2 separate regions of the Homo sapiens genome follow, and region 1 is linked to region 2. A link means that fine-mapping ties the variant in region 2 to the plasma level of a protein whose gene starts in the linked region. Region 2 holds a variant in brackets. A gene starts in the other region. All regions are shown on their reverse strands.

Evidence for each region. A credible set is the group of variants that fine-mapping cannot tell apart. PIP is the posterior inclusion probability: the model's chance that the variant is causal. The UK Biobank Pharma Proteomics Project read protein levels with antibody pairs (Olink). The fine-mapping took linkage between variants from a reference panel, not from the people measured, so its PIPs are less certain.
Region 1: it holds the start of WFIKKN2, and the variant in region 2 is the best candidate, but not a certain one, in a credible set for the plasma level of the WFIKKN2 protein (UK Biobank, PIP 0.79).

What each region holds. Positions count from the first base shown.
Region 1 is chr17:50,833,129-50,838,600 of GRCh38, reverse strand. It overlaps WFIKKN2 (WAP, follistatin/kazal, immunoglobulin, kunitz and netrin domain containing 2), which reads right to left and starts at 3,015. Exons shown (of 2, transcript NM_175575.6): 1 at 2,454-3,015. The coding sequence starts at 2,663. RefSeq lists an enhancer at 5,303-5,472.
Region 2 is chr19:35,846,406-35,848,600 of GRCh38, reverse strand. NPHS1 (NPHS1 adhesion molecule, nephrin) reads left to right here. Exons shown (of 29, transcript NM_004646.4): 10 at 204-348; 11 at 436-560. Among named protein-coding and RNA genes, the nearest start is that of NPHS1, 5.0 kb to the left of the region's middle. RefSeq lists a silencer at 316-491. The variant G/A (reference allele first, on the strand shown) is at 256.

The DNA of each region.
Region 1 (5,472 bases), not on the chromosome of region 2:
TTCTGTGGAGCCACGTAAAGCATTAGTTTAATTCCTCGAAATTAGCAACATGCTCCTGGAGCTGACACAAACAAGGATTTCACGTGGTGTTTTCGACAATAACACATCGTACCCACTTGGCAGGCAGGCAACGCTCCTAATCCTCCACCAGGTAGTAACTCTGTGAATTACTCCCCACTAGGGCTGGCCTCTTGTCATTCCAACTTTTATTTCAGCCTCTTTGACATTCCACATCAGCTAAGAGGGGGAAAATATCCCCCCACCCTGGCTGCATGGAGCCTGCCTGCTTGACTTGTTTACTGTTCTACCCGTTTCGGCTCAGAATGGGGACTTTGTTTTGCAGCCCTTGTTTGGCATAGTCTTCTAGGCCACACCAGGGGAGGCTTTGGGACAGGGATGGGCAGCTCTCAGAGCTGGGTCTAAGGGAGAGAGACCCCGCAGGGAATGGAGAGCAGGAGAGGGAGTAGGAGCAGGAGAACCTTCTCCTTGGCCTGAGCCTCATCCCATTCCCTAAGACATTCAGGACCTGGAGGTCCATGAAAGCCTGGGTCCTTGGGCACCAGAGGGAAGGTACTTCTGGCCACAGGGAACCTACAGGGGGTCCTTAGAACACTTCTGTGTAAGGGGGCCAGAATGTCCCCAAGGGCTGTCTGGATACCCAGCCTTCCACAGGTGCCTTCTCTCCAAGACACACAAAATCCACCAGAGTCTCACCATCCCCAAGCCCTACCTGGTTAATCAGGCCAGCCTGTGCCTGCAAATGTAGCCAACTAATGGCATGACCTTGGCCAGATGGGAGCAGCCACCACTCCTCCTGACTTCTTATCTTCCTTTCACTTGGCACCACCATTGCCCAAGGGGAGCATCTGTCCTGGGAGGCCTAAGAATTGTCCCTGGGCACTGTGAGGTTGAGGCCACCCTCTCCAGGTCAGCCCTCTGCTCTCCTGTGGGTAACCAGGCATCTATGGGGGAACCAGTGTCTCTCGTGTTCCCTGGGGATGCCCCAGCCTGGATCTGGAGCCTTGGGAGACTCCGTGCTGCCCTCAGAGCTGGCCAGACTGGGCAGGAAATAGCTCTGCCTGGAGCAGGTGTAGGTCCCACAGCCTGTTGCCCCAGAGGGGGTGGGCAGGAATGGCCCTCGGGAATGACTCGGGAGCTAGAAGAGAACTGGCCCTGCCCTGCAGCAGTGCCCTCTGATACAGAGCAGAAGGCAGGACCAAGGACGCTGGGAGGCTGAAACGTGGTCTCCTTCCTCCCAGGGACACCAGAGATCCATTCAGAGCTGCTCCTGCTTGGCCTGCCGTCAGCCTGGTCTTCTCTCAGGCTCAGGGTCCAAACTCCTGAGGAGGTGGCCTGGAGTCCAATGCAATCAAAGCTTTCTTGTTAGACATGAGTTCCAAGCTCATCGTTCCCTCACTGGCCATGACAACTGTGCCCTCCGTGCCTGGCTCTGTGTCCACTCTCTCACCTGTGAATGGGCTGCTGATGCCCACCATGCTGACATGTCATGCCAACATACACGACGTGCCCGGCACGGTGCTGGCCACAGTAGCCCTCAGCACGCATGAAGGAGGAATCCTCGGGCTCCAGTCCCTGATGAACTGGGACATCGCTCCCACCTCTCCTTCCAGGCTTCGGTGTTAATAGACAGGATGGTGCCCTGTTTCTCTCCAGGTGAACGGGGCCTGTGTTCCTTCACCTTCCTAGGACCTGCAGGGCACTCCTGCATGGTCCCCACCCTGTGGCTCCCACCCCCATCACTCACAGGCTCATATGGTCCATCTCTGGCTTCTGGACCCCACTCACCTGGTCCGCCTCACACTCCAGCTTCTGGATCCCACTCACCTGGTCCATCTCACACTGTGGCTTCTGGACCCCACTCACCTGGTCCACCTCATACTCCCACTTCTAGATCCCACTCACCTGGTCCGCCTCACACTCCAGCTTCTGGATCCCACTCACCTGGTCCATCTCACACTGTGGCTTCTGGACCCCACTCACCTGGTCCACCTCATACTCCCACTTCTAGATCCCACTCACCTGGTCCGCCTCACACTCCAGCTTCTGGATCCCACTCACCTGGTCCATCTCACACTGTGGCTTCTGGACCCCACTCACCTGGTCCGCCTCACACACCGGCTTCTGGACCCCACTCACCTGGTCAACCTCACACTCCCACTTCTAGATACCACTCACCTGGTCCATCTCACATTGCGGCTTCTGGACCCCATTCACCTGGTCTGCCTCACACTGTGGCTTCTGGATCCCACTCACCTGGTCCATCTCACACTCCTGCTTCCGGACACCACTCACCTGGTCCGCCTCACACTGTGGCTTCTGGACCCCACTCACGTTGTCCTCCTCACACTCCCACACAGTCCCTCCCCGACGGCTCCCACCCCCGTCACTCACAGGCTCACGTGGTCCATCTCTGGTCTCTGGACCCCACTCACCTGGTCCGTCTCACACTCCCGCCTGCAGGTGCTCTGTGCGTCCACCCAGAGGTTGGGATTCATGTCGTTGGGGCAGATGCCGGCGTGGGAATAGCGGATGGGCGGCAGCGCCAGGCTTCGCGGGGGCACCCCGAGCAGTAGCAGCAGCAGCAGCAGCGCTGCCACCTGCTCCCAGCGAGACCAGAACCGGCGACACCTTGGGGCCCACATGGTGCAGGCTGGGGCGGCTAGAGACCTCCCCTGAAACGATGCCAGGGTCTGGGGCCCACCAGGGCCTTCTTCTCAGGGGCTGCAGACACCTGCCCTCCCCACCCCAGCAGGTTTCCTGCTCAGGCTGCTGCTCAGGCTGCTCTGCCGCTGCTGCCTCCACCAAGTCAGCACAGCCTGCCGGGCTGTGCGGCTTCAGATAAAAGAAAGGTCTTTAGAAGGAAGCTCCCTCTCCTGAGTGTGCAGGGAGAGGAGCCACAGCAGGGGCCCGCGCCCGGATTTATATCCTGGGCGCGCCACCCGAGTGGGAGCCAGCTAACCTGATGCCTGTCACAGGCAGGCTGCTGGCGCCTCTGTCCCGTGGCTGATCACAGACTTATTGCAGAAGGGGGGAAAAAAAAAAAAAGAAGCTGGAAGCAGTTTAGGCAGCGTATCTGGCACGGTGGGACACCTGCTTGTTTTTGACTCCAGGAGGCCTTTAACCCCTTCAAGGGCCAGAAATGGCATGTGCTTTGCGGGGAGCTGGCTCCAGGACACGCAAGCTCACTCTGAAGGAGGGCTTGTTTCCCTTTCCCCCACCTCCTTGGGGCCGGGCCCCCTCCTCCCCTTTGGCCACCTCTAAAGAACACACAATCGCTTGTTACGAGGAGGGACCTGCAGCCACCGGGTTAGCATCGCCCGGCTTGATAGTACATTTGAGAGCAAATGACGTGGAAAAACAACAAGTTCACGGCCATTCCAGGGCGGGCCTGCGCCGCGCTGTGCCCTGTAAGCCGACTCCCACCCCGGCCCCGGCCCTTTGTGGGGGGTGTGCGCACGGACAGCTCTGTATCTCTGTGTCCAGGGCAGTTTGCGTCTTAAGTTCCAACTTCAGTTAATTTTCCCCAAATCATTCCAGAGACACATACCAGATATGCTCTGGCCCCGCCGGCGGCTGGGACGGATCACATTCCTCCCTCTTCCATCGACACACCGAGAAAACCTCCGCGGTCACAGTGTCTCAGGATTGTGCCGGAGTCCAGCTGCCCTCGCTGACGACCACAGTGGCTGCTCTTCAGTGAGCTCCTTCTGACTGCCAGCCTTGTCTGGCCTCCCCCACTTCCCAAAGGAGAAGGTCTGTGGTCGAAGAGGGCGAGCGACTTGTCCAAGGTCGCACAGAGTGAGCAGTCCTGGTGGTACCAGCTGCCAGATGCACTGGGCTCTTCACACGTGTGGCTTCTCTGAACGCATCATCTCATTTAATCCTCACAACAAACTGCACCTCCATTTCAGATCGGAGGAAAGGACGCACAGAGAGGCTAAGCAACCTGCCCATGTCGCACAGCTACCCCACCACGGTACAGGAAACAGGGACACCAGCTTGCTGGGTGTGGGCAGGGGCCTTTTAAAATCACCCCTCCCCCATCCATCTGCCAGAACTGCTGTCAAGGCACAGCCCAAACTCTGGTTTTCACAGACTGGACAAGAAATTTTTGAAACATCAGGGGCTATATTTGTGGAGGGGCCGGGAAGAGAGCCAGAAGCTGCCAGGGGCTGGGGGCGATTCCTCCCCCATTTGGCAGCAAATGGCTTCTATCTAAAATGCCACAGAGCAGCCTGCAGTCTGAGTGTTTTCGAGTTGGTCACTCGATCCTGGGGGTAGGGGGCGGAGGCACATAGAGCCCCGAAAGAGAGGTACCTTTCCAAGGCCAAACCACAAGGGCCTTGAGGAGCTGCTGTGTCCCGGGGACAGTAGGTGGAGTGGCCCCCACACGCATCAGATACGGAAGGGATCCTGAAGGTAATCTCGCTTTACAGCTAAGGAAACTGAGGCCTGAGCCCAGGCCGCTCCTTCCCCACGTCCACTTTCCCCTTCAAGAACACAGCTCGCCATCTCACAGGACTGTAAAACGGCCACGGGACCCTCGCTTCCACACCCAGACCCTTCCCCTTCCCAGCCGGGCGGGTGCTGCCTTCTCCCCGCCTGAGCTGGTCCCTTCCCGTTGTGCGGCCATTCTGCAGGATCTGTCTTTTCTGCTTATGTCAAATCGCTAATGAAGGGTGTCAGATCCTAATCCTCTAAATTATTGGAATAAACTTCCCTTCGAGGCCAGTCCCCGTAATGAAGCCAGACAGCGGGCGACGCCGGCTGCTTTGAATTCCCCGTAATTTCATCAGCCCGTGTTCCAGCTGCTCCGCGCGGGGGCCTTCACACAGCCCTTGGACAAACGCGGTTTGCGCAGCCTCCTTTGATAGCACAAAGGGACATGGACAGTGACACATTTATAAGCAGGACTTAGAAAAACTGTCACAGCCCCATTAGGCCAGGACAAGTATCCAAGGAGAGGAGGCCGATTTCTGGGCAGTCCCAAGAGACCATTAGAGGGTGTGGGAGAGATGAGAGGGGGTCGGAGGAGGGGAGGCACCGAGCAGAGGTTGGGGGGTGCTGAGGAGGGCAGGAGAGGGGCACACGGCAGGGCAGGGGAAGCTTGGCCATCCTACCCCCACTCCTGGGGCTGATGGAGAAAGCCCCCACACCCAACCTGGTCCTGTCTCAAGCCACGGACTTCTCCTTCCCGGGCCCCATTCCTGGACGTTCTACTCTGAGAACTCTCAAAGCAGCATCGGGAAAGAGAGGAGCCCAAAGCACTCTGACTCTCCCTCCAGCCCTTCCAAGTCTCCCACCAAAACACAGCTCAGAATAATAAATAACATCTGATCGGCCTGGAGCCCACACAGTGTTTTCACCTGCACGTTGCTGCTGACCCCACGGCAGCCCCAGGAGGGAGCTCCCTAGCGCGGGAGAGGAAACCGAGTCACAGAGAGGTTAGGC
Region 2 (2,195 bases):
AGGGGGCTGAGGGCATGACTCGTGGATAGGGAAGGGGTGGGTCCAGCAGCCTGGGGGGCTTTCTCCTTGAGGACCATGGGTCCAACAGAGGGGGAGGTAGAGATGTCTCCTGTGTCCCTGCTGGGGACTGGGATGGACTCAGGCCTCTAGCACGATGGATAGGGGTGCTGCAGTCCCCACGTCTGAAGCTCACTCCCTGCCAGGGACTGCATGGCGGTCACATCTCCATGTCCAACCTGACATTCCTGGCGCGGC[G/A]GGAGGACAACGGTCTGACCCTCACATGTGAGGCCTTCAGTGAAGCCTTCACCAAGGAGACCTTCAAGAAGTCGCTCATCCTGAACGTAAAATGTGAGCCCCTGCCCTGGCCCAGCAATGCCCCCAAGCCTCAGGACCCAGCACAGAGAAAAAGTCATTCTTCCTTCCTCTCCCCGCCAGATCCCGCCCAGAAACTGTGGATTGAGGGTCCCCCAGAGGGCCAGAAGCTCCGGGCTGGGACCCGGGTGAGGCTGGTGTGTTTGGCTATCGGGGGCAACCCAGAGCCCTCCCTCATGTGGTACAAGGTTGGTGCCACGCCAGGGCTATGGGGGTGGCCAGGAATGTGGGGGAAGGACCAGGCCCCTTCTCTCCTTCAGAATCTTGGGCAATCTTGGAAAAAGATTAAATTTCTTGAAAAGTACTAAAGATTCTGAGGTTTGGCAGGGAATCAGGAAAGACACAAATGCTATGAGAATTAAATGGAATCCTAGGAAAATTCTGGGGAAACAGTGAGAATTTTAGGATAAAAATTGGAATTCTGAATCAAGATTAGGCATTCTAGAGAAAAGGTAATTTCATTAAAATTAAAGAAAATTCTAGTGAAAACCCTCAGAATTCAGGTGAAATGTCAGGAATTTTAGGGAAAGACTTGAATCCCAGAAAAAAAAAAAAAACAATGCTGTAAAATTTGGCTGGGCACAGTGGCTCACGCCTGTAATCCAAGCACTTTAGGAGGCCGAGGTAGACGGATCACCTGAAGTCGGGAGTTAGAGACCAGCCTGACCAACATGGAGAAACCCTGTCTCTACTAAAAATACAAAAAATTAGCTGGGCATGGTGGCGGGGGCCTGTAATCCCAGCTACTGGAGAGGCTGAGGCTGGAGAATTGCTTGAATCCGGGAGGCCCAGGTTGTGGTGAGCCGAGGTTGTGCCACTGCACTCCAGTCTGGGCAACGAGACCGAAACTCCGTCTCAAAAAAAAAAAAAAAAAAAAAAAAAAAGGCTGGGCACAGTGGCTCACGCCTGTAATCCCAGCACTTTGGGAGGCTGAGGCGGGCGGATCACGAGGTGAGGAGATCGAGACCATCCTGGCTAACACGGTGAAACTCCGTCTCTACTAAAAATACAAAAAATTAGCCAGGCGTGGTGGCAGGTGCCTGTAGTCCCAGCTACTCGGGAGGCTGAGGCAGGAGAATGGCGTGAACCCGGGAGGCGGAGCTTGCAGTGAGCCGAGATCGTGCCACTGCACTCCAGCCTGGGTGACAGAGGGAGACTCCGTCTCAAAAAAAAAGAAAAGAAAAGAAAAGAAAATTTGGAGAAAAGCTAGTAATTCCACAGACTATCGGAAATTCATTAGTATTAAACTGAACTCTTGGGATTTGGAGGCAAGAAAATGAAATTTCATTAAAATGAAAGAGAAGCCTAATAGAATTCTAGGAGAATCCTGGGAATTAGGGAGCTAGTTGAAAACTTTGGGGGGAAGACTAGAAATTATAGAAATGACAATGGAATTTTATTTTAATTGGATGGAATTCTGGGGAAGTGCTGAGAATCTGGGCAATACAAAGGAATCTGTTAAAAGACTGGGATCATAAGATATTATAATATCGGGAAAGATTCAGAAATCTATGGAAAGTTTAATTTGTGCAGCAGCAATAATAAAAAAAGGAAGTAATCTATGGAAAGACACTGGAATTAAGGAAAATTTCAAAGGAAATCTTTGGGGACAGCAGGAATTTTAAGAAAAGGAACTGAGGAACTCTGGGAAAGGCCTGGGAATTTCAAGGGAGTTTCCTGCAGGTGGTGTTGGGTAAACACAGCAGAAATAGATTTTGAGGAGTGCGCTGAGAGCCTGCAGGTGGCTGCAGAGGCAGAGCAGGAGTTGGGTGTGGGACAGAAGGCGGATTCAGATCCCCAAAACTGCCATGCACAGGGACTCG